Homo sapiens: one gene and its partners. The protein of the gene in region 3 binds, or shares a complex with, the protein of the main gene of each other region. Each region holds a gene or a part of one and is shown on either strand. Other genes may lie near its edges. A codon is read from its position in the direction of its gene.

What was found.
Region 1: the proteins of AEBP2 (region 3) and RBBP4 are in contact, whole or in part, in a cryo-EM structure (PDB 8VMI), measured with the Homo sapiens proteins. Residues at the interface, in NP_001107648.1 of Homo sapiens: Asn378, Lys379, Phe397, Phe398, Asp399, Thr402, Ala405, Ile406, Arg409, His476, Ser478, Pro490, Asn491, Ile492, Tyr493, Arg494, Thr495, Met496, Pro497, Arg500, Lys502, Arg503; in NP_005601.1 of Homo sapiens: Ala6 (codon at 2,903), Phe8 (codon at 2,306), Asp9 (codon at 2,303), Asp10 (codon at 2,300), Val12 (codon at 2,294), Glu13 (codon at 2,291), Glu14 (codon at 2,288), Arg15 (codon at 2,285), Val16 (codon at 2,282), Ile17 (codon at 2,279), Asn18 (codon at 2,276), Leu45 (codon at 2,195), His71, Gly106, Gly107, Phe108, Gly109, Glu126, Asn128, Arg129, Glu179, Tyr181, Glu231, Asn277, Lys317, Asp318, Phe321, Thr338, Asp339, Arg340.
Region 2: the proteins of AEBP2 (region 3) and JARID2 are in contact, whole or in part, in a cryo-EM structure (PDB 8VNZ), measured with the Homo sapiens proteins. Residues at the interface, in NP_001107648.1 of Homo sapiens: Arg407, Ala410, Ile411, Asn414, Leu415, Glu420, Ser421; in NP_004964.2 of Homo sapiens: Ser148, Lys151, Pro152, Lys153, Thr154, Glu155, Asp156, Leu158, Thr159.
Region 4: the proteins of AEBP2 (region 3) and EZH2 are in contact, whole or in part, in a cryo-EM structure (PDB 8VMI), measured with the Homo sapiens proteins. Residues at the interface, in NP_001107648.1 of Homo sapiens: Lys382, Leu383, Lys384, Asn385, Arg387, Arg388, Ser390, Leu391, Pro392, His395, Asp399, Ala400, Gln401, Asp404, Ala405, Arg407, His408, Ile411, Cys412, Leu415; in NP_001190176.1 of Homo sapiens: Ser76, Leu77, Arg78, Gly79, Thr80, Thr100, Asn102, Ala103, Val104, Ala105, Ser619, Asp620, Val621, Ala622, Ile739, Glu742, Met743, Glu744, Ile745, Pro746.

The regions. Positions count from the first base shown.
Region 1 is NC_000001.11:32,646,725-32,654,224, reverse strand, and holds the start of RBBP4 (histone-binding protein RBBP4), read right to left. Parts: upstream 3,018-7,500; 5' UTR 2,919-3,017; coding exon 2,903-2,918; intron 2,870-2,902; exon of another isoform or gene 2,793-2,869; intron 2,312-2,792; coding exon 2,164-2,311; intron 1-2,163. Other genes in the region: ZBTB8OS (protein archease), read left to right, coding at 3,660-3,792. UniProt on the Homo sapiens protein: Core histone-binding subunit that may target chromatin assembly factors, chromatin remodeling factors and histone deacetylases to their histone substrates in a manner that is regulated by nucleosomal DNA.
Region 2 is NC_000006.12:15,242,182-15,249,079, reverse strand, and holds the start of JARID2 (protein Jumonji), read right to left. Parts: upstream 3,012-6,898; 5' UTR 2,541-3,011; coding exon 2,496-2,540; intron 1,266-2,495; exon of another isoform or gene 936-1,265; intron 571-935; exon of another isoform or gene 384-570; intron 226-383; exon of another isoform or gene 116-225; intron 1-115.
Region 3 is NC_000012.12:19,434,782-19,442,502, reverse strand, and holds the start of AEBP2 (zinc finger protein AEBP2), read right to left. Parts: upstream 3,012-7,721; 5' UTR 2,804-3,011; coding exon 2,133-2,803; intron 1,905-2,132; exon of another isoform or gene 1,799-1,904; coding exon of another isoform or gene 1,776-1,798; intron 1-1,775. UniProt on the Homo sapiens protein: Acts as an accessory subunit for the core Polycomb repressive complex 2 (PRC2), which mediates histone H3K27 (H3K27me3) trimethylation on chromatin leading to transcriptional repression of the affected target gene.
Region 4 is NC_000007.14:148,881,284-148,888,614, reverse strand, and holds the start of EZH2 (histone-lysine N-methyltransferase EZH2), read left to right. Parts: upstream 1-4,323; 5' UTR 4,324-4,451; exon of another isoform or gene 4,452-4,679; intron 4,680-5,129; exon of another isoform or gene 5,130-5,418; intron 5,419-7,331. UniProt on the Homo sapiens protein: Polycomb group (PcG) protein. Catalytic subunit of the PRC2/EED-EZH2 complex, which methylates 'Lys-9' (H3K9me) and 'Lys-27' (H3K27me) of histone H3, leading to transcriptional repression of the affected target gene.

The DNA of each region.
Region 1 (7,500 bases), on a different chromosome or scaffold from region 3:
TATTTGTAATTTTAGTAGAGACGGGCTTTTCACCATGTTGCCCAGGCTGGTCTGGAACTCCTGGCCTCAAGCAATCTGCCTGCCTCAGCCTCCCAAAGTGCTGGGATTACACGTGTGAGCCACCATGACCAGCCCATAAGTTCCTAAATGGTTTGAATTACCACTGAAAACTCTTGACAGAAATGATTCCAATTATCCTGAATTCCCCAAGCAATTCTGATGATCAATTGCATGTGGGAACTCCTGGTCATGATAAAGAAGCTTCTAGGCCGGGCGCGGTGGCTCACGCCTGTAATCCCAGCACTTTGGAAGGCCGAGGCGGGTGGATCATGAGGTCAGGAGATTGAGACCATCCTGGCTAACACGGTGAAACCCCGGCTCTACTAAAAATACAAAAAATTAGCCAGGGGTAGTGGCCGGCACCTGTAGTCCCAGCTACTTGGGAAGCTGAGGCAGGAAAATGGCGTGAACCCGGGAGGCGGAGCTTGCAGTCAGCGGAGATCACGTGACTGCACTCCAGCCTGGGCAAGAGAGGAGACTCCGTCTCAAAAAAAAAAACAAAAACAAAAAAAAAAAAAAAAAAAAAACCAGAAAACAAAAAACACACAAAGCAGCTTCTAACTCCCAATTTCTAGGTTTTTACTATGGTTTTGTGTAACATCCCTAGGACACATTTCCCTATTTTTCCTTATGCCACTGTAAAGGTAGCAGCCTCATTCTTAAGTTACTAGTATAATTTCTGCCAAATTTCTATCATTTGTTGAGCTACATCATAGTCTAATAACATTTTGCAATTATCTTAACTTTTAAAGATCCAAGTTTTGAAGGAATTTACTTAGCATACAATCGCTTTTGAATGTAATTCAGAAAACTTACTTTTGTACCAGAAAATCCATTATTCCAAATGGCACAATGGTCTTGTTAAAACTATGTTAATATCATCTAAATTTACCCTCCTCTTTGTTTTTTGCATTGTCATTTCTTCCTAAGAAATGAGGCAAATTGAGGCAAATTTTCCTTCCTCTGATAATTTTATCTGTACCACTTTTATGCTAATTATAACTAATTTGGATCCCCGATATGTAGCACCAAATACAGCCCCAATAAATGCAAGCTATTTTATCCCCTCTACTAGAGATAAGCTACCTACACGTAAGAAACATAGGATTAATCTTTTAGCCCTCACTATGCCCAAACCCCTTATAAGAAAGCCATTCCACCTTCAGGTGTTTTCTAGGTACCCTAATTATCTCTCTACAACTGCTGTCACCATATATAACTATAATTATTAGTTTATATCTGCCACTTCAACTAGACAATGTGCTCCTTGAAGGCAGGTACCATGACATACTACGAGAATTCAAATTAAGTTTTGTTGAGGCCAGGTGCAGTGGCTCACGCCTGTAATCCCGGCACTTTGGGAGGCAGAGGCGGGCGGATCACCAGAGGTCAGGGGGTTGGAGACCAGCCTGTCCCACATGGTAAAACCCCGTCTCTACTAAAAATACAAAAAAATTTAGCCAGGCGTGGTGGCAGGTGCCTGTAATCCCAGCTACTTGGGAGGGCTTAGGCAGGAGAATCGCTCGAATCTGGGAGGCAGAGGTTGCAGTGAGTCGAGCTCGCGCCACTGCACTCCAGCCTGGACAACAGAGTGAGACACCGTCTCAAAAAGAAAAACAAAAAATTTTTGTTGTAAGGACTAGACTCATTGTAATACTTTTTTCTTTTTTTGTGTGGGGGGCAGTAGAGACGAGGGTATTCCCAGGGCTGGTCTCCAACTCCTGGCCTCAAGTAAGTCTCCTGCCTGGGCCTCCCAAAGTGCTCGGATTCCAAGTGTGAGCCACTGCTCCTGGCCATAATACTTTTTGAAAGTTGACAAGTTTTGTACTATTATTTGGTACAGCCACTATTATTACAGGTATTATCATCAGCTACAGCTATTTAATTCAGTATTGAGAAAAAAACGCCAATATGTTTTCTCTTGTCAGGTAAGTTACAAAATCATTTTGTTATTTTGCCTTACTTTGTGGCCTAGAAAAAATGTCACCAAGAGGTTTTGATCACATGCCTTCTCCGGGTGACTGAAGAGCGGAAAAAAGAAAATCAATATGAGAAATCTACACTGAAAATACATCAAAATAACGTTCGGGAGAGTCATGTCACCTGGTTACATCTGGAAGCCACTGGGCAGTTAGGCTGGGCCACTCCAGAGCATGGGTCATCACCAAATCATAAAGAAAAGGGGTGTTCTTTTTCCATATTTTGTATTCCTCGTTGATCACTCGTTCTTCCACTGCGTCGTCGAAGGCTGCTAAAATTTTTAAAAACAAATTTAAGTTAGCAAACAAACGGAAACCGAGTAATCCTCTGCAAAGCCACCTGCATGACTCCTACAGCCTAACCATGAAATGGAGGTGATTTGTCTAAATCCCCACGGCAGAGGCATCCACACTCTCCACTTTCGCGGCGCCGAAACTCCTCGGGCCATCCCCGCCAAACACTCCGTTACCCGTTCCAGGCCAAGGGGCCAGCCAGGCCTTCGGAGCACGCTCGTGCGCGCCGAAACTCACAAGCCCGACGAGGAGGCCCGAGCTCCGAGCCTTGTGGGTAGGAAGCGGTGTCCCCACGCTCGGGACAGAGGCCGAGAAACCGATATCGGAGGCAGGAAGAGAAACAAACACTGGCCGGGGGCCCCACCGCTGGCTTCGCCAGCTGCGACCGAAATCGGTCCCAGGGAACTGGCGAGCCGTTAGCACGCCCCGCGGGGAGTTCCCTCTTCACGCCTTCAGTACCGGGGACTGCACTCGGCAAACTCGGGCCTGCCCTCACTGTTAGGCCATGTCGAGGCCGCGGCTCAGCCCAGGCACCCACTGCCCTCCTGGGTCGGCCCCGGCACCCTCACCTTCCTTGTCGGCCATGGCGGGCAGGCGAGCCGGGGGAATCCTGGGGTCGAGCGTTGCGGGAGGGGCGGGGAGGCTGCAAGAGCTCGCTCTGTGCGCGCGGCCTCTATTGTTTCCTGCGCCCCCAGCGCGAGGGCTGACTCGCGCACCTTCGCGCCAACATCAGCCAATGGGAGCGCTCCTAATGGCGGGATGGGCGGGGAAGCCGCGTTCGCGACCAATCCAGACGCGCGGAGTAGCTTTCCGCGGGGACCGAGGCGCGCGCTCCGCCCCTCCCCCCACGCCTCCCCGAGCCGACTTCCAGCGATTGCGCGCGCCGGCGTTGACGGGACTGCGCCCGGTCAGGGTCACGTGAGAGAGGTTTGGTCCGCACACTCCCGCGGCAAGAGGGCAGCCATTTTCTTGAAGGCTATTAAGCTTACGACCCTTTCAGAGTACTGAGATGAAAAATCTAGAATGCCTTCGGGTCTAGTTATCAATTTTGGGGGTGAAGCGGGGGAAAGAACCTCGCCAGTCAGACCCAGACGGGTTTCATTCAAGGTGCCCTTCAACGTTTTTCCTTAGTCTTTGGAAAGAACTAGTAATGAAGGAATCGCAGAAGATGGGGTTTTGGCTTTTTAAATATGCGATCCAAGCGGCAGGGTAGGGACTAAAGTAGGTCAACAGCCAACTCCGAGAAAGGAGTGTGGTCCTTTAAGGGTGTGCGCCAAGGGGCGGAGTCTAGAGCGGAAGTAGTAACTCCGGGCCGAAGTCCGGTGGATGAAGGGCGGAAGTAGAGTGTCTAATCCTGCAGTCATGGCGCAGGAAGAGGAAGATGTTAGAGATTACAATTTGACTGAAGAACAGAAGGCGATCAAGGCCAAGTATCCGCCAGTCAATAGGAAGTACGAGTGTGAGTAGGTGGCTTACTTCTCTCTTTACATGTAAGCACACAGGCATCCCCTCTCCTTACCCGCGGCTTCCTGCTGCTCTTTCTACTGTGCCCCATGGGTACTTCAGGCATGATCCCATTTGTGCCGGCTGTTGTAGTCGCGTTCGTACTTCTCCTGGGGATGCTGAAGGAAAAAGCCACCTGGTTTAATAGTCGCGAAACCTGGCCTCCCTCATTTACAGTCTCTTGAACTTCTTCCACATGTGCCTAATCACATTTATCTTCGTAAATTCTAAAGATAACCATATTTTCAGGCGTTTGCAGGGTTGTTACCCCCATGTATTTCCCAACGGTGAGATTAGAGTGTGCGAGGTTAGAGGACTCGGAAAGCTAATTAGGGGATTTCTAACTTGATGTTTCACCTCGATCATATTAGCAAAAAACCTGGTTTTGCCATTTATGATTGTGATTTTTAAAAATGATTATTTTAGGCCGGGCTCGGTGGCTGAGGCCTGTGATCCCAGCACTTTGGGAGGCCGAGGCGGGCGGATCACCTGAGGTCGGAAGTTCGAGATCAGCCTGACCAACATGGAAAAACCCCGTCTCTACTAAAAATACAAAATTAGCTGGGCGTGGTGGAGCATGTCTGTAATCCCAGCTACTCGGGAGACTGAGGCAGGAGAATCGCTTGAACCCGGGAGGCGGAGGTTGCGGTGAGCCGAGATCGCCCCATTGCACTCCAGCCTGGGCAACGAGCGAAACTCTGTCTCAAAAAAAAAAAAAAATGTGTGTGTGTGTGTGTGTGTGTGTGTGTGTGTGTTTTTAGAGATGGGGTCTCGCTCTGTCGTCCAGGCTGGAGTGCAATGGAGCGATCATAGCCCGCGCTGCAGTGCCCAGCTGGTTTTGCCATTTATTCGCTTAGTGACTTTAGGCAAATCACATAACCTATCTTTGTCTCTTAAATTCTATATTAAACGTTAAGCTGTCATCCCTAAAGGTAGCTGTGGTTTGGGGAGCACAAATCTGACTTTTATTTATCTGCTTAAAATCTTTCATTAATTTCTCATTGTCCTCTCTGTAAAATCTACTTATTTACCATAGTATTCTAGGCAATGTGCTTTCTGGAGCTGGCATACCTCCTAGCATATCCCCTTCTCTCACTTAAAAACAATTTTAAAATATTATAGGCCGTTTGCGGTGGCTCACACTTATAATCCCAGCACTTTGCGAGACTGACGTGGGTGGATCACCTGAGGTCAGGAGTTCCAGACCAGCCTGGCCAACATGGTGAAACCCCGTCTCTACTAAAAATACAAAAATTAGCTGCGCATGATGGTGGGCGCCTGTAATCCCAGCTACTCGGGAGGCTGAGGCAGGAGAATTGCTTGAACCCAGGAGGGTGGAGGCTGCAGTGAGCCGAGATCACACCACTGCACTCCAGCCTGGGCAACAGAGTGAGACTGTCTCAAAAAAAAAAAAAAAAAAAAAAAGGCCTGGTGCTGTGGCTCACGCCTGTAATCCCAGCACTTTGGGAGGTTGAGGCGGGTGGATCACCTGAGGTCAGGAGCTTGAGATCAGCCTGGCCTGGCCAACATGGTGAAACCCCATCTCTACTAAAAATACAAAAATTAGCTAGGCATGGTGGTGGGTGCCTGTAATCCCAGCTGCTTGGGCGGCTGAGGCAGGAGAATCGCTTGAACCTGGGAGGCGGAGGTTGCAGTGAGCCGAGATTGCACCACTGCACTCCAGCCTGGGCGACAGAGCCAGACTCCATCTCAAAAAAAAATTATTTTTAATAGGTCATATATATTGATTTGAAATTCAGAAAGTGTAACATAGGCAGTGAAAAGTAACTCTGGCAGCCCCCATCCTCAACTACCTAGTCCCCCTCTGTAGAGCAGTCATCGTTACCTTTTTCTTACATGTACATACCTAGATGTTCTAGCATTTGCTTTAACCAATTTTCAGTTGATGGACGTTTAGGCTATTTCTACTCTTGTGGTATTAGAAACAGTGCAGCAGTGAATACACTTGTACATCCACTGTTTTGTACATGTGCAAGTGAATCTGTAGAATCAAGTTCTCCAAGTTTTTTTTGTTTCCATTGCTAAGACTCCTACATTTTTTAAAAGGATATTTTAACTTGGACAGTTATTGCCAAATTGCTCTCTATAGGAGTTGTACCAATTTATACTTTCACTAGTATTGTGTGAATGTGCCTCTTTCCTCCCACTTCTACTAATTGTTACCATACTTTTTTATCTTTTCTAATTTGTAAAGTATACTTACTGTATTTTTCTTATTGTAAGTGAAGTTGAACATATTATACTGTTTTGGAAGCTATTTGTATTTCCCATTCTGGGGTGTGTATGTTAATATTCTTAGCCCTTTTTTCTCTTGGGTTATTTTTTTTTTGTCTTGGGTTGTTGGTTTTTCTTACTAGGCAGAAAGTGTTTTTATGCAATGCAGTTCATTAACCAGCGGTCCCCAACCTTTTTGGCACTAGGGACTGGTTTCACGGAAGTCAGTTTTTCCACCAACGGGGGTTGTAGGGGAGGATGGTTTCAGGATGATTCAAGCGCATTACATTTATTGTGCATTTTATTTCTATTATTATTACGTTGTAATATATAATGAAATAATTATACAACTCACTGTAATATAGAATCAGTGGGAGCCCTGAACTTGTTTTCTTGTAACTAGATGGTCCCATCTGGGGATGACAGATCATCAGGCTTTAGATTCTCATAAGGAGCACACAGCCTAGATCCCTCAATGTGCAGTTCACAATAGTGTTCAAGCTCCTATGAGAATCTAATGCTGTGCCTGATCTGAAAGGAAGTGGAGCTCAGGCAGTAATGTTAGCAATGGGGAGCTGTTGTAAATATAGAAGAAGCTTTGTGAGCTCATGTCCTGCTGTGCTGCCTGGTTCCTAACAGGCCACCAACTGGTACTGGCCAGGGGGTTGGGGACCCCCTGCATTGACCCTTTCTTTCTTTTCTTTTTTTTTTTTTTTTGAGACAGAGTCTCGCTTTGTCATCCAGGTTGGAGTACAGTGGCATGATCTCCAGTCACTGCAACCTCTGCCCCCCAGGTTCAAGTAATTCTTCTGCCTCAGCCTCCTGAGTAGCTGGGACTACAGACATGCACCACCACACCTGGCTAATTTTTTTTTTTTTTTTTTTTTGAGACAGAGTAGCTGGGATTACAGGTATGCACCACCGTGCCTGGCTAATTTTGTATTTTTAGTAGAGATGGGGTTTCTCCATGTTGGTCAGGGTGGTCTCGAACTTCCAATCTCGAACTTCCAATCTCAGGTGATCCGCCCGCCTCGGCCTCCGAAGTGCTGGGATTACAGGCGTAAGCCACCACGCCTGGCATTTTTTTTTTTTTTTTTTTTTTTTTTTTTTTTGAGACAGTATCTTGCTCTGTCTCCCAGGCTGGAGTGCAGTGGCACCATCTCAGCTCACAGCAACCTCCGCCTCCTGGGTTCAAGTGATTCTCTTGCCTCAGCCTTCCGTATGGCTGGGATTACAGGTGCCCACCACCACACCCGGCTAATTTTTGTGTTTTTTTTTTAGTAGAGACAGGGTTTCACCATGCTGGCCAGGATGGTCTTGAACTCCTGACCTCAAGTGATCCGCCCACCTGAGCCTCCCAAAGTGCTGGGGTTACAGGCATGAGCCACCACTCCCGGCCAACCCTTTTTTTTATGGCTTCTAAGATAAG
Region 2 (6,898 bases), on a different chromosome or scaffold from region 3:
GTGAAAACATTCCTGCAGAAAGGAGGCGCCTCCTCCCCGCTCCCCGCTTCCCAAGTGGCATCAGAACAGGGTCCAGTGGCACTCCTTTGGGGACCTACGGCTCCCCGGCCCTCACCTGGTGGGAAGCGCGACGCTCCGGAGCGGAAGGCAGAGGCCGAGCGCATCTTCCTCCTCTTCCTCCTCCCACGCCGCAGCCCGGCTCTGCGGCAGCCCCCGCCCCCGCCCAGCTCCCTCCTCCCCCCGCCGCCCCGCCGCGCCTGGAGCCTCCCGCCCGACTTTTGACGTCACGGAGGAGGAGGGGAAGGTTCCACCCGAGCCCGTCCCTTTGTGACGTCACAATGACAACAGAGTGCGGCCGGGAGCGTCGGGGAACCGAGCGCCGCGGGGGGCGGAGGGAGGGAAGAAGGGCTGGGGCGCCGGCGCGCGGCGGGGGAAGAACCGGGGGGCGGAGAGGGGGCGCGCTGACGTCTCGCCGGCTTAACCTGTTGCTCTCGAGACTGCGTCGGAGCCCGCAGGCAGGGCCGCGGGAAGCCGGCCGGGCCGCCGCCGCCATGCTCGGCCGTGTGCGCGGTGGGGGGCGCCCGCTGCAGCTGTGCGCCGCGCGCCCCCTCCCCGGCACGCCCACGCCCCCGCCCCCGCTCCCACCCCCTCCCCGCGCGCTCTCCCCTCCCCGCGCCCCGCAGGCCGCGCCACCCCCGCGCCCCACCCGCCCTCCTGCCCGCCTGCAAGCCGGCCCGGGTAGACCGGTGCCCGCCTCGCGCGCCCGCCTAGAGCCCGGAGTATGCCCCCTATAGGCCGCGCGCGCGCGCCCGCCCGCCCAGCCCCGGCCCAGCCTGCCGCGACCCCCGCGGGCCGTCCCTTTCGCAGCCGGCTCGAGGACGTCGGGAACACCGGCTCTGCTCCCGGTGCATTAACTCGTGCCGTGCCTCCCGCAGCCGCCGCCAGCCACGGGCTTGCAGCCGGACGCCCGGACTCGGAGACACGATCCGCTGAACGCCCGCAATAAGAAAGAAAACCCACCCCACGCTGCTCTCCACCTCAACGAGGTCCGGAATGGGAGGCGGGGTGCGGTTCTCGTCCAAGTTCTACCCCATTTGCTTTGTGGCTGCATCCGAAACGGACGTGCCCCGGGAAGGCGTCCACGCTCCAAGACAAGGTTGCCTCAGTGCAGTTTCTACAGCCCGAGTTTAAACTAGTCCTTTGCATTCTACCCAGCCCTCTGCAATGCGGATGTATTTTAATTCTTAAATTCTTTATGGAACAGCTTTCTAAGTTGGGCTTGATTATTTAACCTTGCATTTCTTTCATAGTTGAAGTTGACGTGTCTAGATAAGGATCAGCTCTCTTGAAGAGGCATTCAGCTTTTCCATTAAATATATTTTTTTACAAAACCAGTGCCCCGAAGGTCATCTCTCATTACACACACCACAATGATCAAAAAGGGAAAATATTAACACCAATTTGTCTACCCAACTTAAATAAACTTTCCTCTTACGTTGCATTATTCCTAAGGTATGTTCATTTGGCCTTTTTTGAAAAAAAAAAAGAGTTATTTAATTTAAAGCATGCAGCTAATCACAGATCACTCGAGTGCATATTTGGTTAATCCCTCGGTCCCCCTTTCCTCCCTCCCCTCAAACTTAAAAAAAAAAAAAAGCCACCACACACAAAACAAAAACACTCCCCATGCCAATCAAAACGTAGCTGTACTATGCACAAAACAAATTTAACTATTCCAAGCCATTTAAATCTAGGAATAATCACCCAATTTCAGAAGCCCAGTTAACAGGGAGAAATTATTTGTAGTTACTTACATATGCATTCACGTACACACTTAAAAACATTAGCCATAGTGTGTGTCCTTTTCCCCTACAACTGGAAACCATGAATTTTTTAAACAAAACCAGCCTCATTATTAAAGTCAATCCCAACAAATGCATTCGCTGTAACATGATTCCCAACTGGTTTATGTTGCAAACCAGATAAGCCAAAACGACCACAGACATTAAATTTGATGTGCCAGTGCAAAGAGAAGATCGCCATAATCGGACCCTCGATCGCAACTTAAAGGGCTTCCAACACACATGCGTTACACGATTTTTCCAAATAACATTAATAATAATAACACAGGCTCATTTGCATGCAAAGTGCAATACGGGGCCAAATCCGCTTGAGAATGCAGTTTAGTTACATTACCGCAGCCACCCCCCACCTCAAGCTCCACCAAAATCCCTTGCCTTTCATCTAAAAGTAGATTATGGTTGTGTCATTCGAGGTCAATTTATTCACTTGAGGTATCTCTACACCAGTCTGTTTTTTCAACCAAACTAGGCAGACACCACTTTGCTTGAAAAGCCCTCTTTCAGAAAAAAAAGAAACAGCCTTATCGGACGCTGTGTTTAAAACCCTTCAGAGGCAGAATTATCTATAAACTTGACATTCACAGCCATTGCTTAAAACTGCAAGTCAAAGGATGTGTTGTTAGGAGCACTTACGTATTTCTTCTGAATGATATTCCTCTTGGGTCTTTCCTTGCTCATTCTGAGATCCAAATGCTGATTGCAAAAGGGGACAATTGCTTCATGAATTTAAAGCCGTCAGAAATTTGCAAAAAAATATCCTGGTGGTTTTTATTGTTGTTGGTGGTGGTTGATCTTGTAATCCGACTTTTCTTCCTCTTCCCCCAAAGCCAGATTCGCCTTGAAATAAATCCGAAATTGGGAAGGAAAAAAAAAGAGCCAAAGACGAACGAAGCAAACAAAAAAAAATTCACTTTAGTAAAACACTCATAATGGAAAATTTCCCCCGAAACACATACACACACACACAAAAAAAAACCGACGCCCTTCACTCCCCCCCCTTTTTCCTCCAAAAACTACATCAGCGAAACGTGAAGGTCCTTAGTGTCTGATCCGTAGTTACATCTTGGAAAAGAAAAGGGAAAGATAAATAAAAAATGTTGGAAGTCACGTTTGTGCTGCAGCAGCAGTGCGAGCAGAAGAGTCAACTCCAGCGGCGGCGGCGGCGGCGGCGGCAGCACCACAGCGAGGGCTCGCCGAGTCTCTTTTTTCCAAGCCCCCTAACCAATGAGAGAGAGGCTATCCAGCCCAACTTTAAATGGACTCTGCTTTTATACAAGTTAGGGCTCCTCGGATAATTCCCCGCCGGGCGCCAGCCGAAAACTCCCACCGCTCAGCCGCCAGGCGCCCGCTTAGCCTGGTGCCGACCGCCCCTGGCCCAGTCCAGGGCACCCCCGCAGCCTGGCCAACCAGACACCCGAGCGACCTCGACGAACCCCTCCCAGGCAAGCCCTCGGGCGTCGCTCCCACGCCGAGCCCAGGCGTGGAATTGAGAGAGGCTCCCTAGCTCAATGCATGGCACGCTCCGTCGCTCCACCTCACCCCCTTTCCCCTGCCTGCCGCTCACCCCACGGCCGCCCCACGCCAGCCCCCGCCACTGCCTTCGCGTCTACCTGCAGCCGGGCTGCTGGGTAGGAGTGCCCCAGGACGCCCGGCCCCGGGGAGAGCCGCCTATTCCCGGGGCACCTTAGAATGGTCCCCTTGATCTTCTGGAAGTTGTAGTCCCCCGACTACAAAATGGCTATGGCCACGGAAGCTGGGAACTACAATTCCCAGCCTGCCCCGCAAAGCCTGTCACTCAACTCCCCTCCCTCCTCCTCGCCCCCTCCCCCTCACTGGCCGTGCCAACAAACGCTTGGACGTGTCCCGCGTGCGACACTGCTAGAGGCTGGCTCGGGATTGGCCCGCGGAGCGTGTGGTCCGCGAGCGAGGAACTCCCCACGCCGGCCCTCCTCCGCCCCCCGGGCCCCGGCCCCCCTCCCCTGGCGGCCGCCAGCCCCCTCCCCGCGCGCCCCGCCCCCACCCGCGGCGCGAACCGCCTGTGGAATCGAGGAATCGCGCGCGTGCGGCCCGGAGCCGCGGGGGAGGGACGCGAGGCTTCCCCGGGGAAGGCCTCGGAGCGTGGCGGTGAGGGGGGCGGTGTCAGGGAGGGGTTGGAGCCCGTCCTAAGGAAAACTGGGCCACGCACCAAGAGGAATCCTCGGTGCGAACTAGTTGATCGGCGGCGCCTGCTGCTTGTGCCGTGCAGCCGGTGTCACCTCAGGACAGCGCCTCGCGTCTGTGTACAGAGCGTGCTGCGGGCGCCTAGGGTAGTCCGAGGTCACCCCTCTCCGCGCCCCGCAGTCGCGCACGCCCCCACGCGCGGGGTGGGCGGTGGCCGGGGGTCGCCGAGTGGAAAGGCCACGCCCCCCCACGCCCGGGCTCGGCACGCTGCCCCTGGGTCGCGAACGCGCCTCCGCTCGACCCGCTTGGAGGACGTCGCTGGTGGCCCAGGAGTGAAGCCCCGGCGGCTGCCTCCTGAGAAAAGATAGCCGTGTTTAAAGAGACTGAACGGGATCTTTGCTTTGCCGGGCGTATTTTGTGATAAAATACCACAAAATGTTGAGACAAAAATGAGTGGAATATGGAGACCGAGCCGCACAGACACGCAATTGTAAGGAAACATCTCGAACACCGAGTGCCAGGAATATCAACTGTCCGGGCCACGCAAGAGCCTGCTTTTTACCTGCCTCCAGCCCCCTGTCGTGCTGGTTTAATCGCTGAAACAAATGAAGTAGCAGGCCCTGGCATAGCGCTTTGGGCCTTCGCCTTATTAACAACTTTGTCAAGTCTCGCATCGCGATTCTGCCTTGTTAATTTCCTTGTTTTTCGCTGTGGTTTTGGAGAAGCAATGTTTTCCATGATCTCTCAGGCTAGCCTCGGAATAAAACGTGGCAGAAGCGCTCCCGCGAACACATACCCATATATTTTATTCTACCTATTCCCTAGAGTCTGCTAACTTCAAAAGTCTAGATACTCACACAGCTGTTTACTTGCAGCAGTATTTGAAGAGATAACCTTGGTGTCTAGAAAGGTCTCAGAAACTGGAGGTAAGAGACCTGGATTCAAATCGCGCCTTGGCCACTTCCCAAAAGGCAACCGAGAGCCTCTCTGAGCTTGTCAGTTTCCGCATCTGCAAATTAGTGGTGATCAAACCTGTGGGGATGATTATGTGATAAATAACAGTAACCTAGTTTAAAACTAGGCACGTTATTGGAAGCTTTCAGTAAACGAAATAAAAAGCCTTTTCGAGAGGGTATTTTCCTTATTATTTTTACCTTTTCAAAAAATCTGAAATGAAATAATTTTATCTAATGTTCACTTCACAATTGGAAAAATAAATGATCTTTTGTGCCCTGAATACTGCAAAACTTGTACGCTGGTGCCATTTCCTGGGAAGGATCCAATGGGGCAGACTACAGTAGGGCCACCCAAGGTGTTTTCTAAAAACTTTCTGATCATTAGGACTGGCATACTGGGAATCTCCACGTCTCCACGTTGTTAAGATTTTAACCAGCTTTCTGTAAGTTTAACGCAGATACCTCATTCCCTAGGCAAATATTAATGAACAAAGGTGAGTTTCTTTTCTGTTCCCCTAACTAGCCCTGGGGCCTGGACTTCTCAGTCCTGGGCTTGCGAACTCCCCTGCCAGGCTACCAGCTCCAGGTCACCTGGTGTGAAAAACTATTGTGTAAAGTTGAGGCCTCAGGGCAGAGGGGAAAGGAAGGAATTTGCTCATTTCCAAAAGATTTGAATAATATTAGTGTTGTTTTCCCTGAAAGAGAAAAAAGGTTGGCCTTCTTAGTGGTTGAAAGATTTTCCTGTTGTGAAAGTAACCTACTCCTAATGAACTTCCTTCCCCTACCATCTTGGCAAGACCATCCAAGGCTTTTCTTGCTCCTTCCTCCTCTTTTTCATTTTCTGTAAGTCAAATGCAGCTTTTCTTATGATGATTTTCACATCTCAAAGCCTTGACCTCTTCAATTGGAGGGGCAGGGATGAGAACATGTCTAGGTACATTGATTGTATTAGACTCTATGCCAGCACTGTCCTCATCCCTGAGGACACAGGAAGCTCACAGCTCAGTAAAAAAAAAAAAAAAAAAAAGGCAGAGTTTACAATGGATTGTGATACCTCCAAAAAGTACTATATCAGCAATGTAGAAAAGAAGCTAAAAAGAACACATTGCTGAGATGACTAGGTGTTAAGGAGTTTTGAAGTAGGTGTAGGGGTTCACATACATACTTAAAGAAGTGCATATTTCACCCCTTTGCATTGCATCCTATTTGTTTACATTCTCCACTTTTAATGTTTCTAGTTCTTCTCTCCAAGTAAAAAGGAAATTCCCTAAAGAGATGATGTTGTCTACTTCTCATACCCTCCAAAGCTCCAAAAACTTCATCAAATTTGAAAGATGTCCAGTAAATGCTTACTGTTGAATATTTCACCAAAACTATAATGCCCAACTATTTAGACTATTGCCCAACATTTAGTCTCCTACCATCATCTTCCATTCCATTCTGGAACTCTGCTAGTTTTCCTCTTGCATTATCTAAATCCAATGTAGTGTTATACGTTCTTCAAGGCCCCAAATTCAGGCCCATTTCCAATCCAGCCTCGCTGCTTGGCCTACTCATTCCTGGATTCTCATTGCCCTTCCTATTTTGGCAATAATTTTTGAGCTTTAAAATTTTATTCTGAGGCCGAATGTGGTGACTCACATCTGTAATCCCAGCACTTTGGAAGGCCGAGGCAAAAGGATCACTTGAGCTCTGGAGTTTGAGACCAGCCTGGGTAACATGGTGAAACCCTATCTCTACCAAAAAAAAAAAAAAAATTAGCTGGACGTGGTGGCCCAGGCATGGTAGTGTGCACCTGTAGTCCCAGTTACTTGGGAGGCTTAGGTGGGAGGATGGCTTGAGCGGGAGGCTGAGGTTGCAGTGAGCTGACATTGCACCATTACACTCCAACCTGGGTGACAGAGAAAGACCCTGTCAAAA
Region 3 (7,721 bases):
AATGTACTTAACCAATAATTCGTCTCCTGAAGTGATGTAGTAAATGGACACTAACTAAAAACAAAACTCTGACACATATCACTTGGTTTTTTTTTGAGACGGAGTCTCGCTCTGTCGCCCAGGCTGGAGTGCAGTGGCACCATCTCAGCTCACTGCAACCTCTGCCTCCCGGGTTCAAGCGATTCTCCTGCCTCAGCCTCCCGAGTAGCTGGGAACACAGGCGCGCGCCACCACTCTCGGGTAATTTTTGTATTTTTAATGTAGATAAGGTTTCACTATGTTGGCCAGGCTGATCTCAAACTCCCAACTCAGGTGATCCGCCCACCTCGGCCTCCCAAAGTCCTGGGGTTAACAGGCCTGAGCCACCGCGCCCGGCCTCAACTTATTTAAGGCGAATTATTTTAACTCTTCAGTGGAAATAATAGGGGACTTGAGAACCTTTGCTCATATCCAGCCCACCATTTCCATGCTGTATTTACTGTCCTGAGTAAGATACTCAACTTGCTTCTTCATCTGTTAAACAGAAGTCAAAATAATACCTATCTTGCACCATAGTTGTGGGAATGAAATGGAAGACATCTAATTTGTACAGTGGTAGGCAAGCATAATACGTGTATACTGAGTAAATGAAAAACGCTGATTTTATAAACTAATGTCAACTTTCAGATATGTAATGGTATCAGAGGAGCATAAAATGGTAAAAATAGCACATGCTTCATTGTGCAGTTTACATCAATTTTTAATTTTCTTGAAGACATTCTCCTTCCTACCCATGCCTACACAGTTCAACACAATTTTTCTAAGGTTTATACAGTCTACTTTACCCGAAGATATTTTCTTAACTAGACGTTAATGTCAAACAGAATCTAATGCCAGATTTTCAAAATATCCAGGACTCTGTATTACTTGTAGCATTAAATACTAAGGTGTTCGTTTTTAATCAATTAATCAGAATTCCTAGAACTTTAGAATATTAAACTCTTAAATGAAAATCACTATCGACCACTAAAATTTCCATTGCTATACTTTTCTGGAGAGCATGTTTAAAAAAAATGTGATTGTCAAAACATAGATGGTCAAAATAAACGCTAATACACTTTAGAAGTGGCATAATATGCATGTGATTCTCGTTTTTTTAAAAGTACATTAAAAACCAACTAACCCAAACAGATCAAAAGTAATGATAAGACAATTGAAACATACACTATCACACTTTTTAAATGTTCTGAAAAAATGCGCATTTTTGTCACTCTCCAGTTACTTCTAACAAGCTTTAGTAAGAAAAATAATACTCATTCCTTCCGAGACCTCTCCAATGCATGACTTTAAATATTATCATTTAAAATCATGACTCTCATGTTGAAACATTACTATAAAGCCGCAAACTACGTTGTACCTTCAAGACTGTATTTTGTTACGATTCCAACTCTCTGATTCCGCAAAGTTATCTTAAAAGGCCATCAATTCACTATTCTTTTCCACAACCATTTATACGTGTTTAAAACTTTTTCCCAGATATGCTCCCAAAACAAATAGAAAAGATTGTTAAAATCACGTTGGAGACCACATGACTGACTACAAATGAGGGATTTGGGAGGCAATGATTTAATATAAAAGAACAGTCCTTTTTTTGTTTAAGTAGAGAAAAGTGATAGCTGGGGTCTCTCCCATGGACAAGGAAGTTCTGTTAAATCCAGGCGAGACCAGCCATATTGGAAACACTTGTCAATTGTAGTTCTGACAAGTGTTCCCGAACACGGTTGGAAGAAGCTAACCTTGAGTACCGACGTGTGTACATCAAGGCCCTCTTCTGCTCCGCCAGAGGATCTGGGCCCGTTTGGGGACTGTTTCCGAGTTAGAGCCGTCCTGAGGTCCGTGAGGAGCGAAGCGCCGAGGGGAAAGAGGGCGGGGAAAGGAGAGTTGGGGGGGAACGGTTTGAGAGTTGGAAGCCGCGATGCGCTGCGAGAGGGGCGCGGCGGCGACGGCGAGAGATTTCCGAGTTGAGAGTCTGGGGGAGGGGCCGAGGATTCGGGGAGCAGGGGGATCGCGGCAAAACGTCGCCTTGGTCCCCCTCTGAGGGGCCCGGGAGTTCAAGAGGAGGAAGGGAAGGGGAAACGCTTCAGAGCACTGACCTGTCCTCCGAGTCCATGCGGCTCAGGGGTTCCCCATCCGACGACATCTCCAAGCTGCCCCGCCGGCCCCCGGAGGTCGCGCTGCTTCCGCCTCCCCCAGTCCCGTAGCCCTCGTCGCCGCCGCTGGAGACTACGCTGCTGCTACTGCTGCCGCCCCCGCCGCCGCCCTGGCTGCCCCGCGGTCCCTTGGGCTCCTCCAGGCCCTCCTTGCCGTCCCCATCCCCGCTGCTGCTGCTGGCGGCGCCGGGGCTCAACGAGCGGGTCTCGTCGCTGCTGCTCCCGCCGCTGCTGCCCACCAGGCTCTCGGCGCTACTCTCCTCCTCACCCCCGCCGCTGCTGCTGCTCTCATCTTCCTCCTCCTCGTCGTCCTCCTCCTCGTCTTCGTCCTCCCCGGCCTGGCTGGCGCTCTCGGGGCTCGGCTCCGACATCGTCTCTGCCTCGCCGCCCCCCACTCCTCCGCCGCCGCCTCCGCCGCCCCCACCGCTGCCGCCGTTCAGCAGCAGCGCCGCCACCGCCTCGGCCTCCGCCTCCTCTTCCTCCTCCTCCTCTTCCTCCTCCTCCTCGGGGGGCTCAGCCCGGCCCCGCGCCGCCGAACCCGGGCTGCCGGGGGGCAGAGGGCTCAGGCGGGAGAGCTCCTCCAGGTCGGCCATGTCGGTGATAGCGGCGGCCATGGCGGCGCCTGCTCCTCCTCCTCCTCCTCCTCCCCACCGCCGCCTCCCTCTCTCGACTCTCTCTCCCTCGCCCCCCTCCCAAACGCCCAAAACTCCGCCGACGCCGCTGCAGAGCAGGAGGAGGGCCCGCGAGCTGCGTCAGCCTGCACACGCGCTACGGAGCCCGCGCGGGGACAGGCGCGCGACTACGCGCACTCACACGGAGACTGCTGCGCGCCTGCGCGGCGGCACGAGGCAGCACCTCCCCCGGCTGCGGGTTCTGCGCCCCCGCCCCCGCCCGGCGCCCGCCCCGCTGCCCAGTGCCCGCCCCCGCCCCCGCCCCGGCGCCTGCAAGTGCTCAGCGTTTCCTCGGGGCCTTCCCACGCCCTGCCGGGCTTCGAAGCCCAGGGACACGCGGACTGAAAACTCCAACGCTGGCCGGGGATTTTAGCAGCCTTCCGAGTTCTCACGATAAACTCATTCATTCCGGGGGTGTTTGAGGAGTGTCCCCTCTGTACAGGAGCTGAGCCAGGAATAGAACGAGCCTACAGTCTACGAAGAGAGCGGTTTAAAATGGGCAAAAATTAAAACACTACGGTGTAAGGTACTAAATTTTTATGCGCAACACAGGGCGACAGGTTTTAATACACCCTATGTTTGAATACCCCTGGAGATGTTGACATCCTGAACCCAGAGCAAACATCTTGGTTCAGGGTCCTCAAACTTTTTACTTCATGAGCCTTCTAAAACAATTTCGTAAAGCTGTGTATGTTCTTATACAGTTTAGAATGACAGCTACATTTTTCCGGCTTATAAATATTTCATCTGTCGCATTGTTTAAATACTGTATAGCCAATGGATTCTAAATACCATAGGGATTTAACACCCACTAATATCCATTTTTTTAAAATACAGTTTGGAAAATACAATTTCCAAATATTGTTTTCTGGAACTCATATTGACGTTGCATATCTCCTCTAGAATTTTATCCTAGTAATATATTTTATATTTGAACTATTTTGATCGTCTTACTTGTAATAAAAATGTGAACATAAATTGAAGTATCTGGGTTGTTTTTTATATTTTCTGTGATCATAAAGCTCTTATTTCAACCGATCAAAACAAATCTATTTCAAATGTTTGTAAGTACTAAACACAAAAGCAAAATTTTATTGGCAATGCATCTTGCAGAAATGAACTTGGGTGGACTTTTTTCTAATATACATTATGACCTTCAGTGGATGGATTTTTTTGAGAAATAGTTCAGCATCAGTTCTATTCCAAGTTTTCAATTCCATGGATATAAGTGTTGAGAAAACTTGTTCGCATAAAAAAAGCAGATGAGAATGAATGGAGTTTTGTTATAGTAATGCCACACAATTCTTTGAATGCCTTTCGCATTATATGCCCAAAAATCGCATAAAGATCTAACAAAGAAAAAATACTTTTAATGATCTGTCAGCTGACAACTCTGATTAGGTTCTCTTTCAACTTGTTGAAAGCAAGCAACTGAAAACCACCTGACTTGTGAAAGGATGTGTTACCCCATTCTTATTCACCAGTCAATTGTGCCTTTCTTTGGTGTCCTGGAGGTTTTTGCATAACCGGGTATTGCACCTTACTAAGATTTAGCATGAGGAAGAATTATGCCTTTCTTTTGTAAAGTAGGGAAGAGGTCATTGGAAGAAAGGAGACTGGAAAAGAGCCCACATTACACCCTGACCCAAGGACACATTTTCAGGCCAATTTTAGGGATGCTTCTACTCAAGGAAAATGAGGATAGAACTGACTGCCTGAAAACAGAGCCTCCATGCTCATTTCCCATTTGGGAAAGTCGTCATATACCGTGAGTACCCAGTATTACATCCTCTGCCTTAGGCCTTTGGACAACTGTTATATAAAATGTTGCCTCTAAGGGAATGCAAAAATAATAACATGGGACATCATTTACAGATACCTTCAGAGGCACATACAATGTAAGGTATTAACTTCCAACATTTTAAACCTCAAAGGCAATCTTAGATAAGGAATGTATTAAAGTGAAATACACTGTAAACTGTAAATTAAAAACTATCAGAAGGCCGGCAGGGTGGCTTATACCTGTAATCCCAGCACTTTGGGAGGCCAAAGTAGGAGGCTCACTTGAGCCCAGGAGTTTGAGACCAGCCTGGGTAAAATAGCGAGACCCTGTCTCTACGGCACACCTGTAGTCCCAGCTACTCAGGAGGCTGAAGTGGGAGGTTCACTTGAGCCCTGGAGGTTGAGGCTGCAGTGAGCCATGATCATGCCACTGCACTCCATACCTTTCCTCACCCATCATAAGGGTCATGGCCAACACTTCTACAACAAAAGACAGGTTAACAAGAGAAAAGTGTAACAAATTAATTTAATGGAAGTCTTATGTGACACAGGAGCCTTCAGAAGTAAAGACCCAGAGAAAGCTGTCCATTTGTATGCCTAGATTCAACAGAGTGGACATCCATGTAGAAATGTGATTGTACAAAAAGAGAATGAACTAATAGTAATAGACTGAGTGTGGAAACCCAGCAAGGCCTGTCCAGATTCGTCTTGACCTCTCTGTGTAGCATTCCTTCCACACCCAGGTATAGAGCAGACTTCTCTGGAATGAGAGTCTTCAAATGAGAAGGCAGAGAGTGACCTTTCTTCGTTTCATGGCTTACTTTGTGGGGAAAGGAGTTCTGGTTTATATGACTAGCCTAGGGTGAGTAACAGGGATAGGAGACAGCAGGACAGAGGTTCAGTGAGAGACTTTGCTTCTCAGGCTTTCCAATCTCCTTTAGTTCAAAGTACTCAGCATGGGGGCCAGGTGCAGTGGCTCACTCTTGTAATCCCAGCACTTTGGGAAACTGAAGCAGGGGGATCACTTGAGCCCAGGAGTTCGAGACCAGCCTGAGCAATGGGATGAAACTCCATCGCTACAAAACACTTTTTTTTGTTGTTAACTAGCCAGGTGTGGTGGTGTGCACCTGTAGTCCCAGCTACTTGGGAGGCTGAGGTGGGAGGACAGCTTGAGCCAGGAGATTGAGGCTGCAGTGAACTGTGAGTGATCAAGAGCCATTGCACTCCAGTTTGGGCAATAGAGTAAGACCTTATCCCCCCCCCAAAAAAAAAAGAAAAAAGAAAAGAAAACAAAAGAAAACACAAAGTGTTACCAGAAAGGGGCCCCGATCCCGACCCCAGGAGAGGGTTCTTGGACCTCACACAAGAAAGAATTTGGGGTAAGTCCATACAGTAAAGTGAAAGCAAGTTTATTAAGAAAGTAAAGGAATAAAAGAATGGCTACTCCATAGACAGAGCAGCACTGAGGGCTTCTGGCTGGCCACTTTTATGGTCATCTCCTGATTATACGCTAAACAAGGGGTAGATTATTCATGAGTTTTCCAGGAAAAGGGTGGGCAGTTCCTGGAAATGAGGGTTTCTCCATTTTTTAGACGATAGGGTAACTTCCCGACATTGGCATGGCATTTGTAAACTGTCAAGGCACTGGTGGGAGTTGTCTCTTAGCATGCTAATGTATTATAATTAGCACATAATGAGTAGCTACGATGACCAGAGGTCACTTACATCGCATCTTGGTTTTTGTGTGTTTTGGTCAGCTTCTTTACCACATCCTTTTACCAGCAAGGAGTTTGTGACCTGTATCTTGTGCTGACCTGCTATCTTATCCTAACTTAGAATGCCTAACCTCCTGGGAATGCAGCCCAGTAGGTTTCAGCCTTATTTTACCCATCCCGTATTCACGATGCGAGTCGCTGTGGTTCGAACACCTCTGACAAAAGTACTCAGCATGCCAAAGCACCATACTTTGGGGTATCATTTTCTGAGCCCCAACAAATGTATGTGCCAGACACTGTGTTAAGCCCTGGAGATTATGGTTCATGTTTGGCCGAGTTAATCAAGGAAAGCTTCATGAAAAATGTAGGATTTCGACAAAGTGTATAGTAAGACATACAATAACTATATCTGGTTTCATTAATTTGAGCTGGATTTTGAAGAGCGAACAGAATTCTGTGTTGGGGAACTCAAACTGAGAAGCAATATACGGAAAAGCATCAACATTTATTCATGACAAGGTTAATTAACCATAAGAAATCATGGCAAGAAAGCTAAAAATAGTTAAATATTAGATTGAAGAAGGACATGAATAAAAAGTTGATGTTGGGGACCAGTCACAGTGGCTCATGCCTGTAATCCAGCACTGTGGAGAGCTGAGACAGACAAATCACTTGAGGTTACGAGTTCAAGGCCAGCCTGGCCAACAAGGTGAAACCCTATCTCTACAAAAAATAAAAAAATTAGCCAGGCACAGGAGAATCACTTGAACCCGGGAGGTGGAGGTTGCAGTGAGCCGAAATTGCGCCACTGCACTCCAGCCTGGGTGACGGAGCATGACACCGTCTCAAGAAAAAAAAAAAAAAATTAGCCAGTCATGGTGGCACACAGCTATGGGAGGCTGAGGTGGGAGGATCACCTGAGCCTAGGGAGGTCCAGGCTTTCAGTAAGCCAAGCACCACTGCACTTCAGCCTGGGTGACAGAGTGAGACTTTGTCTCAAAAAAAAAAAAAAAGTTCTGACAGGTATGTACTAAGATATTTTAATAAAGGTATGATATGATTAGATTATATTGTACATCTGTAGAATCTAATATATAGGAGATAGGATGAAAAGTGTGAAAAGTTCCAGTGAAGGATTTATTAAGGGAAAAAAAAAGTGTCAAAAGTGAATGGAGATTAGACACATGGAAATGGCAAGTATCAAAGCCACAAACGAATATTTTAGCTGTGGTATTTATACTTGAAGACTAAAATGAACTGTCTCGGAATTGGCATTTTGCAGAAAATTGTGTTTCCCATCACTGGAGAGTTTCCCTGTCTTCCTCTTGGTTTAGTTGCAGACATCACTGCTCTGCATGCATCTC
Region 4 (7,331 bases), on a different chromosome or scaffold from region 3:
TCCTTCAAGTTTTTCTTCATATGTCACCTTCAAAATGAGGGCTTCCTTAACCAAGTGGCTTTTAAAAAATTATTTTATTCCCAGGCTGGAGTGCTGTGGTCCCATCTCACTGCAACCTCCGCCTCCCAGCCTCAAGCGATCCTCCCACCTCAGCCTCCAGAGTAGCTGGGACTATAGGCACCATGACCGGCTAAGTTTGGTATTTTTGGAAGAGATGAGGTTTCGCTATGTTGCTCAGGCTGATCTAGAACTTGTGAACTCAAGTAATCCTCCCATCTCGGTCCCCAAAGTGCTGGGATTACAGGCGTGAACCACCACATCCAGCCCCAAGCTGTTTTAAAATTACAGCAATTGCACCCAATACTCCCCTCTTCCCATGCCTTATTTTTATCACCACCTCATGTTCGGTATAATCATCATTCACAGAGTAAGCACTCCATAAATGAGTGCTGTATAATATGTGGGAAGTAAATCCCATTTTTGGGGTTGAAAGGGAGGTTCTGAGAAGTGAAGGGATGGAAAGGGAAGTTTGCTGGCTGACAGCCTTAACTTTGCACTCCATCTTCTCCAGTTCCCCCAGGACAACCCTGAGAATCAGCTATGTGCCGGGCACGCTAGGCCCTGGGGTTACAACTTTGGGGCTTAACTGTTTTTCGTTTCATCTTTTAACTTTAATACCAAATCTTTGTTGTTCACACAGAACAATCTTTACAGAAATGAAAAAGCTTGGTGACCCTCAACCTCCATATCCACCTTTGTGTTTAGCCTGGCTTTCTGCTTCATCTAGGCCCCTTGAGTAACTGGCATTCACACACACACTTGCTTATATGTTTACTATTCATTACACACATTAAAAATTTTTTTTCCCATTGAAATAGTCATAGAGGTCTGTTAAATAGGCCTGTATATTTTCTTGCTTTCCTGGGTTAGACATCTTCAGACAGTTTTTCTTTTGGTAGCAAAAGCAAAATACTTCTTCCCCCTCCTAACTTTGCTGTATTTGTCATATACGGAAAGGAGTCGCGAGACATCATGAACCCCACATACAATGAAGTCCTTCTGGAATATTTTCAAATTATCCCCTTTTTCTGCCATTACTGTGGCCTAAACTACCTTGCTTAAATGGACAATGTCATCATTGAATCAAGAAAATACTGTGATCCACTGGCATCCCTTTTCACCTTAGCCTTCATATCATATTTATATTAAATGTCTGTTATATATATTTAGTATCATCCCACCTAGCTCTTTAATGGTTAGAGTCCAACCTACACACTCTTCCCAGTGGGAATGGCTGCTCTATAAAGTTCTTTGTACGTGTTTTTTTTTTTTCCTAACATTCACTTGGTGCCAATAATTATATTTTGTCCAATCACTTTTTTTTTTTTTTAAAGAGATAGGGTCTCACTCTGTTGCTCAGGCTGGAGCACAGTGATGTGATCATAGCTCACGGTAACCTTGGGATCCTGAGCTCAAGCAGACCCCTCACCTCAGCCTCAGGGGCAGGTGGGACCATAGGTACTTCTGTGCCACCACACTCAGTTATTTTTTAAATTTCTTGTAGAGATAGGGTCTTGCTATGTTGCCCAGGCTGGTCTCGGAGCTTCCCACCTCGACTTCTGAAAGTACTGGGGTTACAGGTGTGAACCACTAAGTCTGGCCTGGAATATCTTGATCCATCCATTCCTTGATTCTAAACGTCTAGCAATTTACATGACATTTCACACCATGTTGCAGAGTTATATACTGCTTTGATTTGCTTTATGGTAGTCTCTAATTTCGTTGATCTTCCTCTTAAAAATGCCTTGTTTTAATATTTAGTATTACAGGACTGATAAGTTCAGTAATTTGATAAGCAACTTAGGGATAAGTAGTTAATTTCTGAGGTTTAAATTGCTGGTTTTAAAAAATTGTAAATTGGTGGCCTAGACAGATGCATTTTATCTTGGAGAATGAATGTATTCGTGACTGGAAGTAATGGCAGCTATAATTCGTTACGTTATTTTACAGTCACATCTCAGCTGCATAACCTATTTACTTTTTGCAGTGTTATCACTGATTCACAAGACAATTTTGCTTTTATCTGGGCACATGATTGCTTGTTTCTCCTTATCTTTTAGCTTCCCTTTATATATACTTTCCAACATTGGAGTGATTCAGAATATATGTGAGGAATGGGATGGTGATTTAGGAAAGGCGGGAAAATTATGGGCTAAATCATCTGATGAAAAATTCTGGCCCAGCGCAGTGGCTCACGCCTGTAATCCCAGCACTTTGGGAGGCCGAGACGGGCGGATCACAAAGTCAGGAGATCGAGACCATCCTGGCTAACACGGTGAAACCCCGTCTCTACTAAAAACACAAAAAATTAGTCGGGTGTGGTGGCAGGCACCTGTGGTCCCCAGCTACTCGGGAGGCTGAGGCAGGAGAATGGTGTGAACCCGGGAGGCGGGGCTTGCAGTGAGCTGAGATGGTGCCACTGCACTCCAGCCTGGGCGACAGTGTGAGACTCCGTTTCTTAAAAAAAAAAAAAAAAAAAAAATTCTGGCTAGTTATTAAATTCATTAAAAATATTTCTTCAGATTTTTACCCCAACAGTTCATAGGTGACCTTTTTTCAGTTTCCAGTATGAACTCTCAATATGGAATCTCAGTTTACATGACAATGGTATTTTACCCCATAGATACATCCTAGTAAAAATAAATTCGGAATACTCTTAACTGCATTGCCACATGAAGCAATAGGAGAGACTGTATCCTAAGCAGAATCCCTCTAATTCCTCTGGGTTGAGGTAGCTTGACCCCCCATAACCAAGATCAATTTTTTTTTTTTTTTTGAGATGGAGTCTCGCTCTGTCGCCCAGGCTGGAGTGCAGTGGCGTGATCTCGGCTCACTGCAAGCTCCGCCTCCCGGGTTCACGCCATTCTCCTGCCTCAGCCTCCCGAGTAGCTGGGACTACAGGCGCCCGCCACCACGCCCGGCTAATTTTTTGTATTTTTAGTAGAGACGGGGTTTCACCGTTATTAGCCAGGATGGTCTCGATCTCCTGACCTTATGATCCGCCCGCCTCGGCCTCCCAAAGTGCTGGGATTACAGGCGTGAGCCACCGCGCCTTGCAAATATCCTCACACTTTGCAGAGGCGGCAAGTGAACAGTGCTCATCTTGATAAAGGATTTTTAACACTGACACGTGCTTAGAACTACGAACAGTGGAAGGGTCTGAAATGGCAGCAATGTCGCCCTTTCACAGGTTTCTAGGGCGATAAGCACTGCAAGCTCGGCCAGCCAAAGTCCAGCGGTGGGGGAAAAAACGGCCAAGGCAGCAGCAGACATAATCAAACAGGGCCCGGGTCGGCGGCGGTGGCTCACGCCTGTAATCCCAGCACTTTGGGAGGCCGAGGCGGGCGGATCACCAGAAGTCGGGAGTTCGAGACCAGCCTGACCAAGACCCGTCTCTACTAAAAATAGAAAATTAGCCGGGCGTGGTGGCGCATGCCTGTAATCCAGCTACTCGGGAGGCTGAGGCATGAGAATCGCTTGAACCCGGAAGGCGGAGGTTGCGGTGAGTCGAGATCGCGCCATTGCACTCCAGCCTGGACAACCAGAGCGAAACTCCGTCTCAGGAGAAAAAAAAAAAAGTAGTAACGGGTCCGGCGGCAGCGCGCGGGCCGGGCGAGCGTCTCCCGGCAAACGCGGCGCCACAGCTGAGCCGACCTCCGGGGCCCGCGCCCTCCCCTCCCCGGGCACCACTAGGAGCGGCCAGCCCGGGCCTCGGCTCCGCGCGCGGGGAAACGAGCGCGGCGGTTAAAACCGTTACCACCCCCGAGTTTTGAACTGGTTCAAACTTGGCTTCCAGCACCCGCCCCGCCCCTCCCCCGCCCGGGAACTCTGCGGCGCCGGTTCCCGCCAAGAGCCGCCGGCGCTTCGTCCCGCCCTTCGGCCGGTTCCCGCCACCTATCCTCCCCGCCTCCCGTCCGCGGCGGGCTCCGGGCCCCCGCGATGTCTCCCGGTCCCCGCGTGCCTGCACACCGCCTTCCTGAGAGGCGCCGTGTGTTCAGCGAAAGAACAAAGAGACGGCGGCGGCGCTTCCACACGGCCAGTGGCGTCCCTTACAGCGAACCCCGCCGCCGCCCGCGCGCGCACGCGCTGCCAGTGCCCGCCCGCCCACGAGCCCTGAGCGCACTCTGCGTGGGGCTGGCTCGGCGCCTCCGAGCCCGGCGGGCCCTGTGATTGGACGGGCGCCCGCCTCGCGTCCCGCCAATCGGGGCGGCGCTTGATTGGGCTGGGGGGGCCAAATAAAAGCGATGGCGATTGGGCTGCCGCGTTTGGCGCTCGGTCCGGTCGCGTCCGACACCCGGTGGGACTCAGAAGGCAGTGGAGCCCCGGCGGCGGCGGCGGCGGCGCGCGGGGGCGACGCGCGGGAACAACGCGAGTCGGCGCGCGGGACGAAGGTAACGCGCCGCTGCGGGCGGCCCGGCCGGCGGGGCTCCGGGAGTGCGAACCGGGCGGCGGCGGCGGCGCCAGGACCTCCCCGCCACTGCTGTGCCGGTCCCGGGTATCGCCGAGCGGGGCTCACCGGGGCGCCGCGTTTGTAGGCGTGCGGGGGGTGGAGGGTGAGGGGAGAGCCCCCCTCCCCGGAAGGAGCTGTGAGCTTCGGGCTGGCCCGCGGGACCCTGCGAGTGAGGCAGCGCACACCCCTGGAGCTGCGGGGCGGGGGGCGTGTGGGGGGCTCCTTTCCCGGTGCTTGTCCTGGCCGGGGCGCCGGGGCCGGGGTCGGGGCGTTCCGGTGCCCGGTCCAGGGTGGCAGCTCGAGCCTCAAGTCTCCTTTGTGTGGCGCGGCCGCGGCGGGAGCGCCCGGGTGGGACGGGACAGACACAAGTTGGTGGGACCCAGCCGCCGAGTCCGCACTCAGACAAAGGACGGACTGTGTCTCCGGAGGGCTCGGCGCGAGGGGAAGGGGCATGACACCCGGGCCCGCCGGCGGGCGGGAGAGGGGCGTGGGGAGGCGCGGGCCGCTGCCGGGGTGGGCAGGGCTCGGCCCTCGCCTCGCGCACGCCCCCGGTCCCGGGCGCGCCGACCCCGGGCTGGGGCCGCGGCGCTCGCGGGACGACGTTCGCGGCGGGGAACTCGGAGTAGCTTCGCCTCTGACGTTTCCCCACGACGCACCCCGAAATCCCCCTGAGCTCCGGCGGTCGCGGGCTGCCCTCGCCGCCTGGTCTGGCTTTATGCTAAGTTTGAGGGAAGAGTCGAGCTGCTCTGCTCTCTATTGATTGTGTTTCTGGAGGGCGTCCTGTTGAATTCCCACTTCATTGTGTACATCCCCTTCCGTTCCCCCCAAAAATCTGTGCCACAGGGTTACTTTTTGAAAGCGGGAGGAATCGAGAAGCACGATCTTTTGGAAAACTTGGTGAACGCCTAGTGAGTTGCCACTTTCTAAAGAATCGTAATCCTTAAACATTACAAGCTGTTTTGGCCAACTTGTGTGATACATCTGAGAATGGCGACAGGTGCTAACGAAATCAACTGTCATTCAGCCAGATTATTCCCCAAATCCCGACGGGTTGAATGAGGATGAGGTGGTAGAAGTAGGTGATCAAAATAGAATGGCTATGACAAATGTGTGTTTAGATTATACGGTTAGCAGTTTCTTATTAATTGGTCTCGTTTTCTGTGAACAATAGCTTTGGTGATTCAGAAAAGACTGCATGGAGAAATGTTTGTTGCCTAAGAAATTTAACGTGTGCTGTCCACAGTTAAACTTCCTTTATCACACAGGATCTGTAACATTTAAATTCATTTGGAAATAAAAATGTGTCTTTGCTATTTACTTAAAGGCTTGCTTTTTAGGGTTCAAGCAAGTTATTATTAGTTTAATTTTGTGGCGTTTTGATGTCATCATAAAACAGCATTTAATAAACCTTTGAAAAACACGAATGCTGTCACAATTGAATGTAGTTTATACTTTTAGGGGTTTTGGAGTTTATTTTCTATTACTCTTCATAAGCATTAGCAACTAATTCATGTTTAGGAATACTGTACAAGTGTGTAATCCTAACTTGTTTATTTGTAATTTTATTTGCAGGAAAACAAGTATTTAAGATATATTTTAATTTTCTATTCATGGTCTCTAAAGTTAGGAATAGGTAGGATTCTAGTCATAGATATAAAGCGTCTTGTTCTCTCTTTTCGGAGGTGTGTTGGGTGATGTAATATTTAAGGTTTCCCGGAAACAGGAACACTGCATCTTAAATTCTCGTTTTTGTGGAAAGTGAATATATTCCAAGAAAACAAGTTAGAAAAACATAGGCGTTCTTCTGGTTGCACTGTCCTATATGATAAAGATCTAATGTGCATCTGCTAACTTAAGGTTTCATAAAAATGGAGACAAATAAATGCAATATAAATTTATTACATATATTTTGGAGAGTGTTGACACCACTGTACGGGCATTCCAGGTGCTGGTCTAAGTGTTGAGACATTATAACAAAAAAGTAACGTTTATATTAGTTACTATTAATTCTGTATTTAAAAAATCCTATTAATAATCTTGTCCATTATGAGATAAGGTAGTTATGCAGATTTTTGGCAGAAATTCGGATATTTTAGGATACATATGTGTGTGTGTGTGTGTGTGTGTGTGTGCGCGCGCGTGTGTGTGTGTGTATATGTTTTTTTTTTTTTGAGACAGAGCCTTGCTCTGTCGTCCAGGCTGGAGTGCAGTGGCTGGATCTGGGCTCACTACAATCTCTGCCTCCCGGGTTTAAGGAATTCCCCTGCCTCAGCCTCCCGAGTAGCTGGAACTACAGGCACGCACCACGACACCCGGCTAATTTTTGTATTTTTAGCAGAGACAGGGTTTCACCATGTTGGCCAGGCTGGTCTCGAACTCCTGACCTGAAGTGATGTACCCGCCTCCGCCTCCCAAAATGCTGATCCAGACGTGAGCCACCACGCCCAGCCTAGGATAAAAATTTCTAACTTTGCCCTTGAGTGTTCTCTGTATTTGATAATTACTATTCTTTGTACTTGCCATGAGATATTTTGAAAAACATCTCTTTGGGGAATTGGTTTAAAAATTCATATTAAATTATTTTCTGGTACAATTGAGAATGTATTTAGTCAGTTTAAGTAGCAGTGACTTAAAACACACTTGTTGATCTAGTGTAGTTAGAAAAAGTTCTGATACTTTGATACCTAGCTTTGCCTTGCACAAATACATTTAAGTGAATATCTTTATGTTGGCCATTTAAAAATTTTAGGCAAATTTCTCCAAGTCATACTGGAATTTTCCCAGGATACCTTCCTTCTTTTGAGGTAGTGTGCTCAAGGAT